Linked DNA regions of Homo sapiens: region 2 is linked to region 1. Evidence: fine-mapped expression QTL. Tissue or cell type: whole blood. Region 1 holds a variant in brackets; the other region holds the start of a gene. All regions are shown on one strand. Distances are between the middles of the regions.

Region 1 (8,103 bases):
GATGTTTGAGCAGTCTGGAGCTCTTAATGGAACAAGGGCAAGGATAAATAAATAATTGGACCTATCCTGATGTTTGTCCCTATACATTTAAGAATTCTGTGACCTGTTTTAAACGGAATCCAAACACTGAGTATGAGTTAGATGATAATGTTGTTATTACCCTTGACCTGGCCTTGAGGACTGATTTTGAGCTTTCTGTATGAGAAAATTAGCTCAGAGTGACCTAAAAATTTCTTTATTCTTAAAAACAGAAATAAATTCTCGATCTGCCTTGCCCTTCTTGGAAGAAAGGTAGAGTGGAAAGAGTTAGAAGTTATTTGGTACAGAGTCATTGAGTACAGTGCTCTCCTGAGGTAGAACAGAACTGTCAGGGATTGAATTGCAGGACAGACCTGCAATTCAAGATGATTGTTGGCAGTGAAATTGCTGATCAATGGAATGTGTGGGATGATAGTTCTTGAGAGTCGGGGAGGAGAGTGCAGCATTGTTGGGGCTGGCATTGTATCCACCGAAAACATTTTCAGCATCTCTTCTCTTCTATACAAGACTTGTCCTCTTGGTGTCCCTGTGGGTCACCATTAAGTCGCTTGCTTATTCTTTCTCACCATGTATCTTCATTTACCTTTCTCTAAAACTTCTGTAATTTGCTTTTATCAAGAGATTTTGGTCGCGTGCAGTGGCTCACACCTGTAATCCCAGCACTTTGGGAGACTGAGGTGGGCAGATCACCTGAGGTCAGGGGTTCAAGACCAGCCTGGCCAACATGGTGAAACCCCATCTCTACTAAAAATACAAAAATTAGCCAGGCATGGTGGCGAGCACCTGTAATTCCAGCTACTTGGGAGGCTGAGGCAGGAGGATCGCTTGAACCCACGAGGCAGAGGTTGCAGTGAGCCGAGATCACACCATTGCACCCTGGGCAACAAGTGCAAAACTCCATCTAAAAAAAAAAAAAAGGAGTTTTTCCATTCCCTCTGCATATTCTGGGGGAATTTCCAGACCAGGTAAGTGGTAAAGAACCAATCAGAGCTTAGTAAATAGGTATCCTACTGGGTATCAGCTCTGAAGAAAGTACTGGAAAGAATGTTGAATCCCTACAGATTCTTCCAACACAGGAAGTCACGTGGAGGCCAACCCGCCTCCATGTACTCTAAGAGGTCTGTTTGGTCCCTTGAATATTACACTAATAATTTATTGATGTGACTTTCCTTTGCAAGAGACTGCATCTCAAAACCAAAAGGCCGTTCTGTAGCCTTATTTCTTAGCACTTTCCAGTTTACGTATTGTTTGTTAAACTTTTCATTGTGTTAGTAAACCCAGCATTTGTTCAAGGATATTTGAAATAGTCAAAGGTTTTTGTAAATGTTGTGCAGCAAACTGGTCCTAACAGCCCCTCCTCTGCCCTTCCACTACATCACCCCAGCAGGAGTCAGTGGATATTATAGATTTTTGTGGTATGGAAGTCTTGTAGAATTCTAGAAATAGCCTGGTGGCAGGATTGACAAAATCATTTACATTCTTAGAATAATCCAAATGTTGACTCAGCCTGTTTACCTAAGGTATTCCAAGCATTGGGAGAGAGAAATAGGAACCCATGATATGATTTGTCCTAATATTGAATCCCCTGACGATGGCTGTCATTCAAAGTATTCCTGGGTTCAGGTATTTTTAAAGAATTCATGGCTGGGCACTGTTGCTAACACCCATAATCCCAGTACTTTGGGAGGCTGAAGTAAGAGGATTACTTGAGCCCACGAGTTTGAGACCAGCCTAGTCAACATAGCAAGACTCTGTCTCTACAAAAATAAAAATAAAAAAAGAATTCTTACTTGTCCTAGAGTGTTCTGCTTCTTGGAATAGTAAGATGATTGGGGGGGAACAGATATATTAGATCTGCCCTCTATTTAGTGCTTCAACTTTAGTACAATTAATTTCTAAATTATGCCATAGTTATTGGTGCAAAGATAGACACATAGACCAGTGGAAAAGAACAGAGAGTCCAGAAATAGACGCACACATATACAGTGGGTCTTACAGATTTCCACAAAGGCATTATTATGATTCATTAGGAAAAAGATGGTCTTTTCAACAAATGGTGCTGAAGCAATTGGATGTCCTTTTAGGGGAGGAAAAATGAAACTTGACCTCTGCCTCATAGCACACACAAAAATTAATTCAAGATGGAGCAAAAACTTAAATGTGAAAAGTAAAACCATAAAGCTTGTAGAAGAAAACAGGAGATCTTCATAGCCTTGGGCTAGGCAAAAATTTTCTTAAACAGGACACGAAAAGCACTAACCACAGAAAAGAAAACTTGATAAATTGGACTATACTAAAACTAAGAACATCTGTTTTAAAATCCCATGGGAAAAATCCATAGCATGTCTTCAAGATCTCTGGCAGAAAATCAGGCTGGAACTTGCCCATTAGCACTCCAGAATCTGCCCCCTGCCCAAGACCGATGACCCTGCTACCTGTATTGGCAATAGGGAGATGGACACAGGTTAAAGTAAGTAGGTTTTGGCAGGGCTGAGGCCCTCAGATCCTCACAATAAAATTGTCTTGCATTCCTTGTGTGGTTTGGATATGAGAGAAGCAGCTTTGTTCCCGAGCTCCCCCTCAAATCTCTGAAAACTGGTATGCTCTTCTCAGAACAATCCTTTGAGATCCCCTGAGCTTTGAAGTCCTCCTGCCAAGTCTGTGTGTGGGAAGGAGAACAGAGCAGCATGAGGGCCATCAGAGAGGTGGGCGAAGGCAGTTCAAAGCCCAGCCAGATCCGGCTCTGTGGTGTCCAAACCCTTGGGGTCCCATAGCCCTAGAGGAAGCCCGGGATAGGGTGAGGCCCAGCCCTTTGCAGGGTTCTGTATTGCTGCATCCAGACTAGGAAATGTCTGAGACAGAGCCAGAAACGTAAATACTGCACCACTGTGCTCACCACATTCATGTTTGCAGCAGAAGAGCCAAGCCCCCTGGCCAGGATATATGCTTCCTATTCAGACCTATGGTTTGGAGGGAAGGAAGCATGAAATGTATTTAGAGCTTTCCAAACTTTTGATTGTTTTGCACATTCCTACAAAAATAAAAATATCCCATGAGATTAAAAAAAATCAGCTTCTAATGCTTTAGATGAGTGGGAAAATCTTGCACACTGGGGTCATTTCCTTTCTGTTTCAAGAAATTAATATTGTGCTGGAAATAGCCTGTTGCAGAAGGGGAGACTTTATGTCCTTTGAATGCTGATTATGCCAGAAAACTTTCCAGTCCTAAAGGGGAGGTTGTCCCTTTCCCAGGACTCTGATGCAAGATGACCCTGCAGTTTGTACTTTGCTAGGATAGGAGACCCAAGTCAGCAGAGATTTAAAATTCAGAAGGGATCATTAATTTATTCATTCAAGAAACCATGCTAAGCATGGAATAAGAGCCAGGTTAGGTTCTGGAGTCTCACACTGCCCCACATGAGGATCCCAGACTGCCAGCTCCATGACCCTCCTCTGCGGACGGTCCCAAGTCTTTCTGAAGGCCCCTGGTGATTGAACCCTGGCATTCAGAATTAGCAGAAGTGACATACTAATTACCAGTAACTAAAAAGTTGGTGTTCACATCTCTATTGCAGATGCCGGGAAGCCAGGCCGTCAGGGGACAGGCGCAGTCAGCAAGCACCCGCTCTCTCGGTATCTGTTGGCTTCCACAGTTTTGTGTTTCAGAGCCAAACCAGAAATCACCCAGGGGGTTACTTGCAT[C/G]AGCTCTGGAAAATGTGTAAAGGATTGAAGTCCTGAGACTTTCCCATAATGTCTTATTTAGGCATCAGTCTCCCTCAGTTGATTAGAGCAGGAATCAGCAAATTTCTTTATAAAAGGCCAGTGACAGTGACTATTTTAGCCATACAGTCTCAGCCACAACTGCTCTAGCAGCCAGAGACCACAGGAAACAAATAAGTGTGGCTGTGTTCCAACAGAACTTTATTTTATGGACATTTCCTTTACAATTTTCACACGTCATGAAATATCCATCTTTTAATTTTTTTTCAACCATTTGAAACTGCAGGCCGGGCATAGTGGCTCACGCCTGTAATCCCAACACTTTGGGAGGCCAAGGTGGGGGGATCGCTTGAGCTCAGGGGTTCGAGACCAGCCTGGCCAACGTGGCAAAATGCTGTTTCTACTGAAAACACAAAAATTAGCTGGGCATGCACTTGTAGTCCTAGCTACTTGGGAGACTGAGTCATGGGAATTGCTTGAGCTTGAACCCGGGAGGCGGAGGTTGCCGTGAGCCAAGATCATGCCACTGCACTCCAGCCTGAGCAACAGAGTAAGGTTCTGTCTCAAAAAAATAAAATTTTTCTTAATTTAAAAAAACAAAAATCCAAACACCATTCTTAGCTCATAAGCCATGCAAAAACAGATGGCAGGCCAGATTTGGCCCACAGGCCATAGTTAGCTAACCCAGGACCAGAGAGTCATACCACTTTCATAGCAAAAAGGATACACATGGTTTGTGTTGACTCTGAGTAGGGAACTTCTCCAGAGGGTGCCATGATACAGAAGGTGGGGGGTGTGTTCCCTAATTGGGGGAATGGAGAAGCATCATTCTGGCCTCTCTCAGTGGCCCCATACCTGCTGACTCTATTTAGGCCGTGGCTTGAGGGTGCCCCCCACTTGCCAATGCCTCCTGCCAGGGACCTGGACACTGAGAACGCTGGGAAAGGGCCCTCTCCTTGGGGACCCTGGTCACACCCAATAGATCAGTCACTCTTCTTCCTTCTTACCAGCTGCCTCTCCTGAGCACACTGGAAGAAGGACCCCTGTACCACCTTCCTCGACACCCGGGCCTCTTCTGTTCAAAGGTGCCTCCTGGCCAGGCATGGTGGCTCACACCTGTAATCCCAGCAGTTGGGGAGGCTGAGGCAGGAGAATTACTTGAAGCCAGGAATTCGGGACCAGCCTGGGCAACATAGCAAGACCCCGTCTCTACAAAAATAAAAAATAAAAATTAACTGACATGGTGGTGCACGCCTATAGTCCCAGCTACTCGGGAGGCTGGGGTGGGAGGATCGCTGGAGACCAGGAGTTTGAGGCTGCAGTGAGCTATGATCAAGCCACTGCGCTCCAGCCTGGGTGGCAGAATGAGATTCTGTATCAAAAAAATAATAATAAAATTAAATTAAAAATAAAGATGTCCCTTCCAATCCCCTGACGCACACAGCACTCCACATGTTTCTTTTCTTCCCTGCCTCATCACCCTTTTCAACCTTAGATCCTAAGCTTCTTGAGGCAGAGACTTCCATCTTGTCTGGGTGCTTAGCACATTTTCAAATATTCTCTTAGATTTTTTTTCTTCATTACCCATGGAGCGGTTGCTTGTTGCCTTTCCAACCCAAAATAGAAATAGTGGTAAACAAAAGAAGAAAAACATTGAACATTTTGGAACTAAAATTTTATTACTACTGGAAAAGTCCCAGATAATAAAAAAACAGCTGGTAAATTAGCACTCATTTAAGCATGGTCTGGGGAAGAAGAAAATTTTAATAACACATTTTTCTTCCTAATTGTTTTTGTTTGTTTAGATTTATGCATTCCCAAAGTGGACCTTAAAATCATGTTGGTGGCAGGAGGAAGCCAGTGTGGTCTTTGAAATTTGCTTCAGATAATCCATCAAGGGGATGGCCTCATAAACAAAATTATTATTTTCTCCCTAAGATGCTGACTCATGTGAAGGACTGTTTAAAAGATGACTTTGGCTTTGTGCCCTCTCCTGCAGGTCCTTCCATAGTGACGCCCCCCAAGGACATCTGGAATGTCACTGGTGCCCAGGTGTACTTGAGCTGTGAGGTCATCGGAATCCCGACACCTGTCCTCATCTGGAACAAGGTCTGTGGCACAGACTTTAAGAGACATCCTAGGCTGACAAGCTTCTCTTGCACTGCACAAGGATGGTAAAACGTTAAATCCTCAGCCTGCTTTGTTGACTGCGGCTCCCGCAAGGTGAAGCCTTAGGGCAGTCATACAGGCCCCTCCCCTGGATTCATGGAACAAAAACCAGTCCCTGCCATGCTTTTGTTAGCAGCATCCTAGAATCTGAGAAACTGGAAGAACAATAATGCTGAACACCTGAACCCACCTTCAGGGTGTGTGTGCACCTGTGGTGTGTGTATGTGTGTGCATATGTGGGTGCGAGTGAAAGTGTGTGTGTCTGTGTTTGCGCCCTCAGTGGAGACAGTATAGCATAGGGGTTAAAAGCGTACGTTTCTCTCTTTCTGTCCCAAAATACCACCTCCAAGCCCCCACCAAGCTGTTTGTGATGGCATCAGTCTCCTCATTTAAGACTGAACATTTAGCTGATAATTTAGATCCTGTCTGCTTGGAGGCATTATTATTATTTTACTGGGAGGCTCGGCTAAGAAGGTAAAAGGACACAAAGCCCTGTAGCCTTCTCCTGGGAGCATGGATTATTTTTTCAGATTCCCTAAGTGCTGGGAGATGGATGAGTACATTTTAAGGGCACTTGGAAGTAGGATAGAAGGAATGAGGTGGGATCTATTCTCCTAAGTACCAAGGCTGTAGAACCATAAGTTAGGGACAGAGGAGACCACTCCAGAACAGAGCATTAAAAAGGAACAAGAGGAGGAATAGCAAAGAAAAAAATGTCTCCTTTCTGAATTTTGCTAAATGCTGGCCCCAGCCCCAAGTGGAAAAAGCATGATATTCTTTTAATAAATCAGCTTTGAAATGACTTCCCAAATGGAAAAAAAGAAAAAAAAAAGTGTGAGGCTGGGTGCAGTAGCACATGCCTGTAATCCCAGCACTTTGGGAGGCTGAGGCAGGAGGATCACTTGAGTCCTGGAGTTTGAGACCAGCCTGACCAACACAGTGAGACTTCCTTCTTACAAATAATTTTTTTAATTAGCTGGGCATGGTGAGGCATGCCTGTGGCCCCAGCTACTCAGGAGACTAAGGTGGAAGAACCCCTTGAGCCAGGAGATTGAGGCTGCAGTGAGCTGTGATTGCCCCACTGCACTCTAGCCTGTCTCAAAAAAAAAAAAAAAAAAAAGAGTGTGAATTCCTTAGCCAGGGTGGCTGAGTTCTCTGCAAGTCAGGGTTTCTCAGCCTCAGCACTATTGACATTTGGGGCCAGATAATTATTTGTTGTGCGGGCTGCCTGTGCTTTGGAAGATGTTTAGCAGTATCCCCAGCCTCTACCCACTATATAACAGTAGCATTCCCCCATCCCCCCTGTCGTGAGAATTAAAAGCATCTTCAGACATTGCCAAATGTCCCCTAAGGGTGTGGAGCTGGGGAATTGCCCTGGACTGAAAACCACTGCTGTTAGCCTCAACTCTGTTCTCTACCTTATAAAAGTAGCATGTAATTATCATAAAGATGAAATAAAGTAATGCAAGTAAAAATTACTTGATACATAGTTAGCACTCAGTAGACATTAGCTACTGTTCCTGGAAATTTTTCCCTTCAAGTGGCATTATCTTGTATAATTATCTTCATATTTGAAGGACAACATCATCTCAGCATGTATGGAGAAGGGAAAAGAAAACACTTATTTGCCATCAACTAACACCTCACAATTATACCATACACTTACGTTTTTGTCTTTTTTTTTTTTTTTTTTTTTTTGAGACATAGTTTCACTCTTATTGCCCAGGCTGGAGTGCAATGGCACCATCTCGGCTCACCGCAACCTCGCCTCCCGGGTTCAAGTGATTCTTCTGCCTCAGTCTCTCAAGTAGTTGGGATTACAGGCACCCGCCACCACGCCTGGCTAACTTTGTATTTTCAGTAGAGACAGGGTTTCTCCATGTTGGTCAGGCTGGTCTCGAACTCCCGACCTCAGGTGATACGCCCACCTTGCCCTCCCAAAGTGCTAGGATTACAGGTGTGAGCCACCGCGCCTGGTCGTTTTTGTCCTTTTTATACATTTTGAATTGCTGAGCCTCACAACTATCCTACGAAAAATAAAAATTAAAAAATTATCAAACTCATGCTACCAAAAAAGGAACTTAGTTTAAGTAAAAGGGCATAACCAGACATCCATTTTAAGCTGCCTTACTTCTCCAGCAAGCTCTAAGGTGGATGATAGTCTCCCTTGACTATT
Region 2 (8,103 bases), 67 kb before region 1:
ATGATTCTTTTTAAACATTAAAAAAATTTTAATTCACAAAAAATTGTGTATATTTACAGTGTACATGATGTTTTTATATATGTATGTATTGTGGAATGACTAGATTAAGCTAAGTAACATATTCTTTACCTCACATACTTATCATTTTTGAGGCAAGAACATTTAAAATGTACTCTCTGTCAGGCGTGATGGCTCACACCTGTAATTCCAGCACTCTGGGAAGGCTGAGGCAGGCGGATCACGAGGTCAAGAGTTCGAGACCAGCCTGACCAACATGATGAAACCCAGTCTTTCCTAAAAATACAAAAATTAGCTGAGCGGGGTAGTATGTGCCTGTAATCCCAGCTACTCAGGAGGCTGAGGCAGGAGAATGGCTTGAACCCGGGAGGTGGAGGTTGCAGTGAGCCAAGATTGCGCCACTGCACTCCAGCCTGGGCAACAGAGCGAGACACCGTCTCAAAAAAAAAGAAAGAAAAGAAAAGAAAAGAAAATTCAACACCACTTCATGATGAAAAACAATCAACAGAATAGAAAGGAATTTCCTCAACCTGGTAAGACTGTCTATGAAATGCCCACAGCTAACTTCATACTTAGTGGTGAAAAACTAACAACTTTCCCTCTAAGGTGAGGACTGGGACAAGGGTGTCCACTCACCTCTTCTATTCAACATTATACTGGAGGTTCTAACCAGGGCAATTAAGCAAGAAAAAGAAACAAAAGGCACCAATTAAACAGGAAGAAGTAAAAATATCTCCATCTCCACATCCAGCCTCTCCACCTCACTAAAACTGAAGCTGAACAGGTGACAATATATCTGTTATTGGAAGGGTGGAGTTGTCAACTTGCTCTTTAAAGGCTCCATTCACCTGCCTTTTTTCTAACATCTCTTCTTGTTTTCAGGTCCTCCAGCTCGACTGGCACTATCACAGAGCTCGGGTTCCCCTTTCAGTGACCAGAAACTTGCTTGTTTTCTTTGCTTGCTGGGCAGTGAGGAGGTTCCTCAAAGGGACTCCGCTGTAGCACATGCTTGCATTCTCACTGTTGGCTCTGATGCAGGACCTCCACACACTGTGGGTGACAGCTCTTAGTGTACAGCTGCTGCCACTGCCCACCCACATGCCCTACACACGCAAACACACACACACACACACACACACACACACACACACACACAGTTTGTAGAGCCTGAGGGCTTCTTCTGGCTGCGGAGATAAGCACCTTTATTGGCTGTCTTCCCTTCCTGCTTGCTCACCTGCCTGCCCCAACCCTCAATCTCTGTGTCCTGATGTGGCTTCTCAGGTGACCTACTTGCACTGGAATCCTTGTCTCAGAGAAAGCTTCTGGAGAATCTAAAACTATGACAGATCGTCATACTAGATCATGGAACCAATTTAGTGGCTCTTGACCAGTGAATTAATAAAAAGGAAATCAGGGCCGGGCATAGTGGCTCACACCTGTAATCCCAACACTTTCGGAGGCCGAGGCAGGTGGATCACTTGAGGTCAGGAGTTTGAGACCAGCCTGGGCAACATGGTGAAACCCTGTCTCTAGTAAAAATACAAAAATTAGCCGGGCATGTTGGTGCATGCCTGTAATACCAGCTACTCGGGAGGCTGAGGCAGAAGGATTGTTTGAAGCTGGGAGGCAGAGGTTGCAGTGAGCCAAAATCTCACCACTGCACTCCAGACTAGGCGACACAGGGAGACTTCATCTCAAAAAAATAAAAAAAAGAAAAAGAAAGAAAAGAAAAGAAAGAAAGAAAGAAATTAAATACAATAGGAAATAGAGTGCACTCTGCATTTGTTTCCTTTTCAAGAAAACAAATGGGTCATGTAAACTGCATCTCTTAGGATGGAACAAAGACAAAAATATTTAGGGAAACTCTGCTGTAAAGATTTTTCATTGTTTTTTAAACAACTGTCAGGTCAACATATGACCTTTGAGGGGAAAAAAAATGCTCCACTTGTCTATAATACACTAAGGAGAGGCCAAAAAGCAGTGCTAGGTTTTTCTGGATTGGAGGATGTTTCCCCACTCTCCACCCCCCGATTTTGTGGTCATTTAATTTTCAAAAAATTTGCAATAATTATCCTTGTAAGAGTCTGTTGAGAATGAGTTCTTTACACTGCTAATGGGATTATGAACTGAACTGCTGGCTTTCAGTCAGCAACCCTGTAAATCCCTGGATTTATGCTAAGAAAAAAGAACACAAAAGAACCACAATGTGACATGCAGAATAATGCACGCTGCAATGTTACACATTCAGTTAAAAAGTGAAAGCAACTTCCATGTCTGCATTGGAGAGGCCAGTGTTCCTGGGAAGAGAGGCTTTCAAGTTGAGTTTGCAGAGCACTTCGCAGAAAGACTGAGGAAGAGTCCACCGTTTATATCAAAAACCTCCTGGAATGCTGGTGAAGACTGGGGGCGCTTTAGGTGCCTCCGTGGCAGCTCCAACGAGGAAGGAGCTGGGACCCCTGCTCCTCTCAGCTGCGCTCTGTTCTCCCGAGAGGCTTGCTGGAGGGCGAGCAGTTCAGCAAGAACTCAAAACAAGGGCACAGCTCTCACACGGATTCCAGTACTCACTGAAAACGGCTCAGCACAAAAAAAGCACAGAGTCTTGTTGAATGCCACTGGGAGACAAAGCGGGGAGGGAGGTGCAGGCAGTTAAGAGGTTCCAGAAAGGGAAGTGGTTGGCAACGGTTTGTCCTTTTAGTGCTTGACACCCAAGACCACAGCAGGCCTGTGGCCAGCGGGGACACAGTCCACAAGTGGGGGTTTTTAACAGCTTGTTCTTAAGAGAGCTTCCCAAACCACAGAGTAATGAGCACTCAGGTGTCTCAGGCCCACGGAGGATTTAATAGATGAAACCCTGGATCGTCTCGAAGCCGTGGTTGTTAAGAAGTTTAAATATATTGACCGGAAACGGGGAGAAACCAGAGGGTGGAAGAGCCGCTCGCACTGCGGTGCGATCCCTGAGGGCTCGGGGCAGGGGACTGGGGACCGAGCAGGAGCTGGCGGGGTGAGCTCTGCGAAGCGGGCGTGAGACCGAGCGCCCATGGGCCGGTCACGCCGGGTGCCCGCTCACCCCCCGACGCCAGCAGGAGCGCGCGCGCAGGCCCCGCGGGGCCGGGAGGGCGGCACGGGCGGGGCCCCCGTGCTCTCACCGCCCCGGGGTGTGGTTCCCGCGGACAGGCCGGGCGGGGCGGCGGGTTTAAGGCGCCGGCCGGCCCGACACGGCTCACTCGCGCCCTTGCCGCTGCCACCGCACCCCGCCATGGAGCGGCCGTCGCTGCGCGCCCTGCTCCTCGGCGCCGCTGGGCTGCTGCTCCTGCTCCTGCCCCTCTCCTCTTCCTCCTCTTCGGACACCTGCGGCCCCTGCGAGCCGGCCTCCTGCCCGCCCCTGCCCCCGCTGGGCTGCCTGCTGGGCGAGACCCGCGACGCGTGCGGCTGCTGCCCTATGTGCGCCCGCGGCGAGGGCGAGCCGTGCGGGGGTGGCGGCGCCGGCAGGGGGTACTGCGCGCCGGGCATGGAGTGCGTGAAGAGCCGCAAGAGGCGGAAGGGTAAAGCCGGGGCAGCAGCCGGCGGTCCGGGTGTAAGCGGCGTGTGCGTGTGCAAGAGCCGCTACCCGGTGTGCGGCAGCGACGGCACCACCTACCCGAGCGGCTGCCAGCTGCGCGCCGCCAGCCAGAGGGCCGAGAGCCGCGGGGAGAAGGCCATCACCCAGGTCAGCAAGGGCACCTGCGAGCAAGGTGGGCACGAGCGCTTCCCTCTCCAACCCTGCGCCGCTCGGCCCAGCGAAGGGCACATCCGACGGGGCGTCCGCGGCGGCCTCGCCCCGCGCTGCTCACTGCGATTCCCCCGCGGGCATCCCAGGAGCCAGATGGGAGGGAAAGAGTTGGCAGCCGCGGAATGCCAGGAGCGGTGGGCGACGCCCCCCCTTCTCCTTTTTGGTGGTTTTATTTTGAGAGTTTGCTGCGTGCGTCCAGAAAGTGAGGGCCGGGTGTATATGTAGAAAAGATTTTCCGAGACCTCAGACTTCCCCATGCCCAAAGCGCACCCAACTCGTGCTAACATCTGTCCATTTCTCATCATTCTTGGCTTGGGGATGTAGAGAGAGGTGAAGTCAAGAGATGGGGGAAAGGAGTTTGACAATTAAATATAAAGTAAGGACTTCCAGACAGACTTTTTTTTTTAAAAGATAGGATCTTGCTCTGTCGCCCAGGGTGGAGGGCAGTGGCACGATCTTGGCCCACTGCAACCTCTGCCTCAAGCGATCCTCCTGCCTCAGCCTCCCAAGTAGCTGGGACTATAAGCCTGTGCCACCACGCCTGGCCAATTTTTGGTTTTTTGTTTTGTTTTGTTTTGTTTTATAGCGACGGAGTTTCACTATGTTGCCTAGGCTGGTCTCGAACTCCTGAGCTCAAGTAATCCCGGCCTGCTGGGATTACAGGCATAAACCACCGTGCACAGCCCTGATTTCTTAGTATTGAAGAAAATAGTCCACTTTCTAAAAATTATAGGTTCTCAAACAGTAATCTAACTAGCTAATTATTTGTGGGCAAAAATAAAATACAAACTCTTTGAAGACTGTTTTTGTGATGCACTTTGTTGTCAACCTTCTGACCATTTTGTTTTTCCTTCCTATTTCTTTGATTTGTATTGTTTTGCATAATTTGTCCCCAGGATACACTGTTCAGCAGAAATGTCTTTGAGATTATGTTTGATTGTTTATTTTATTCCAAACAAGTCCAAGCTTGCTGTAAATGAAATAAGGAAATAGGCCGGGTGGGTTGGCTCACGTCTGTAATCCCAGCACTTTGGGAGGCCAAGATGGGCAGATCACGAGGTCAGGAGTTCGAGATCAGCCTGACCAACACGGTGAAACCCCATCTCTAATAAAAAATATATATATATACATTAGCTGGGCATGGTGGTGCATGCCTGTAATCACAGCTACTCAGGAGGCTGAGGCAGGAGAATCGCTTGAATCTGGGAGGCGGAGGTTGCAGTGAGCCGAGATCACATGACAGCACTCCAGCCTGGGTGACAGACAGAGACCCCATCTCAAAAAAAAAAGAAAGAAAGAAGAAAATAAAGTCTGGACTTGCAAATACACGCACATACACACACACATAGAAATTTTAACTCTAATGCCTGAAATAACATTTTCCATTGGCAGTATTTTCAAGGGAAAGTCAGACATTCAATGTTGGCAGCTCCTGATCTTAGCCAAGGTAGAAAAGGGAGAGGAGGCAGTTCTGAGGTTACAGAAGCTGTTGCTTCTTTAACACAGTTCAGACTTTCTCCAGAATTTCCAAATTCTTTCTTTAGAGCTTTTCCCAGAAGTCCACAAACTAATAGGTTGTATGTCATCAATTTCAGAGTTCACTATTGAAAGCCTTAAATTGTGTAACTCACTAGTAACTATTTATAGTATCATCACCTTAAACTTAGAAAATTGCAACCCAAAATAATCTGCATATGTTTACAATAGAAACAGTTATTTGTTACTTTGGATCTCATTTGTCGGTCACATCATGAAAAGATAAATGTGCGTTATTTAAGAATTTATTCCAAATATTGAGATTTTCTTATAAACATTACAATGGGGAACTTTATAGTTTTTTCAAAATGGCAGATACTTGCCTTATCAGAGCAGAAGGTTAGCTTGGTGATTGTTCAAGTGTTGTCAATTTCTAGTTTATACTTAATATTCCTTTTTCTCACCTGCTACTTACATCACCAAACACTCACACAGTCTGATTATAAAATATTGAGACTGACAGTCATATAGAACCAGTTTCATAACCTCATTACCATGTACACCCAGCTCAGTACCTCTCCAGACTGCAAACCCTTTGAGGGTTCCGGCCCGGCTTTTCTTTATATTTGGGGAAATGTTAGAGAAAACAGCATCTAAAACTGGAAACCTTGACTTAAATTAGCCATTTCTTCTCATCCTAAATTGAGAGAGATGAGTTCTAAATGGCAGAGACCATTTATAGGAGAATGCCAAAGAGAGCAGAAGAGAATGGGAAGCCTTTCCCACAGCAGAAACTTTCCACAGCAGAGACAATAGACTGATCCCTATCACATCCCCTAAATATTTCTTCTGACACCTGGATGGGTTTTGACAATCATAGAAGCAAACTGGACAGAGTGCCATTTACTTCTGTGCCATTTCATACTGGGGCTTTGCACAGAATAGGAAATGCATTGTCTAGGTTCCTCTAGACCTCTAGGTTCCCTTCTATTCTCAGAAGAAACTTAAGTTATGCTTGAGTATAACTTGAGTAGGGGCCAGGTAGGGGCAGCATTGTGGGATTCAGCCACAATGGTGTGATTCAATCTGCCCTCTGGTCTTTGGTTCCATTTAACATGCATTTATTGAGCAGCTAACTTGAGTCAGCACTGTACTAGGTGCTATATACCAGGGATGTACAAAACAGATTTGATGTTGCTGATTAAGAAAGTATCTGTACAAGTTACAAACTCACCTCCCAGAGCACTTGCCCTGGAGCCCTGGAGCTTGCCCCAGTCTTCCTCCTTTCTAAGATCACCACTTACCCAACTGGGAAGAGATCTTGGTCTGCTTGTTTTCCATACCTCTCTGGTAGGAGGCAAAGCGATCTGCTTGAAAATATGTCTGAAAGATAATCAGCAAATAATTTCAAATCTTGGAACTGTCATTATGAATTTACTGCCATTAGATTGTATTGAGGTCCCTGAAGTCATGGATAACCAGAAGGGGGAATTTGAAGATTCCATTTAATAAAAAGAAGTTGATACAAAGAAGCTAAGATATATAATAAAATTTCATAGTTGGAAGAGAACATGATGCTTCTGTATTCCAATTACTGATTATACCTTTTGTTCAAAGTCTTTTAAATCTGAGCTCTTTGGCAATCCCATTTCAGCCGCTTTGGTCTCATTAGGTACCATCCTTTCTCCCTCAGAATTAATTTTCACTTCTGGAATCAGAATGTCATTCTTAAGGGTCTCCCTTATTAGTACCTTTAGGACCAAGTTCAAACTACCTAGCAGGACATAACAGGCCCTTCACAATATAACTCCATTCTATTATTTTGACCTCTTCTCTCCAACCTCCTTTATGCACTAGCCACAGTAAGTGTCTGCTATTCACACTTCAGCACATATGTCTCTATGCTTTCATGCCTCTGTAGAAGTTGTGCCTTCTGCCTGCAACGCCTCTCACCTCCACACTCACCACAATTGCACCCTCCTTCACTTCCTTTCCATCCTTTGAACTCTTGCCTATGATCCTTTTGTAGTTCATAAGCATGATGATTGAGTGTTCATACACATGTGTGAGGTATGTCGCCCCCAAACCTTTTATGACATTGGCACATTACCTGTCTGACATGAAAGAAAAATAATAATAAAAATTTTAAAAATGGGCAGCCAGGCGCCATGGCTCACGCCTGTAATCCCAGCACTTTGGGAGGCCGAGGCGGGCGGATCACGAGATCAGGAGATCGAGACCATCCTGGCTAACACAATGAAACACCGTCTCTACTAAAAATACAGAAAATTAGCCAGGCGTGGTGGCGGGCACCTGTAGTCCCAGCTACTCGGGAGGCTGAGGCAGGAGAATGGCGTGAACCTGGGAGGCAGAGCTTGCAGTGATCCAAGATAGCACCACTGCACTCCTGCCTGGGCAAAAGAGCAAGACTCCATCTCAAAAAAAAAAAAAAAAATTTAAAAAATGGGCTGTTACCTAGCCTTCAAGGATCAGCTCTGTCAGTTTCTCTGAGAAGCATTCTGACTTTCCCCCACCCCAAAATGATGTATTTGTTCTTCTAGAGCTATGCATCCAGCCATTGTTTCAACTAATATTTATTCCACGTGTACTGTGTATCTGTATATAAGAGGCAGTATAGCAGAGAAGTTAAGATGAGGAGCTCTCAAGCCAGACTCCCTTGGTGTGAATCTTGACCACTTACTAACTATAGCCTTGAGCAAGTTATTTGACCTGTCTGCCCAGGGTTTTCCTCACTTATAAGACAGGGATTATAACCATTATCTATCTCATAGGGTTGTCATGAAGATTAAATGTCATGAATATTATCCATAGAAAGCGTG

Evidence for each region. PIP is the estimated chance that this variant, and not a neighbour inherited with it, causes the effect.
Region 2: IGFBP7 starts here. The variant in region 1 is fine-mapped to the expression of IGFBP7 in whole blood (INTERVAL, PIP above 0.99).

The regions. Positions count from the first base shown.
Region 1 is chr4:57,038,588-57,046,690 of GRCh38, reverse strand. IGFBP7 (insulin like growth factor binding protein 7) reads left to right here. Exons shown (of 5, transcript NM_001553.3): 2 at 5,758-5,867. Among named protein-coding and RNA genes, the nearest start is that of POLR2B, 64 kb to the right of the region's middle. The variant C/G (reference allele first, on the strand shown) is at 3,741.
Region 2 is chr4:57,105,523-57,113,625 of GRCh38, reverse strand. IGFBP7 (insulin like growth factor binding protein 7) reads left to right here and starts at 3,241. Exons shown (of 5, transcript NM_001553.3): 1 at 3,241-3,749. The coding sequence starts at 3,275. IGFBP7-AS1 (IGFBP7 antisense RNA 1) reads right to left here and starts at 3,864. Exons shown (of 5, transcript NR_034081.1): 1 at 3,656-3,864. It overlaps LOC124900898 (small nucleolar RNA U13), which reads left to right and starts at 7,281; the gene lies at 7,281-7,383. RefSeq lists a silencer at 3,103-3,172.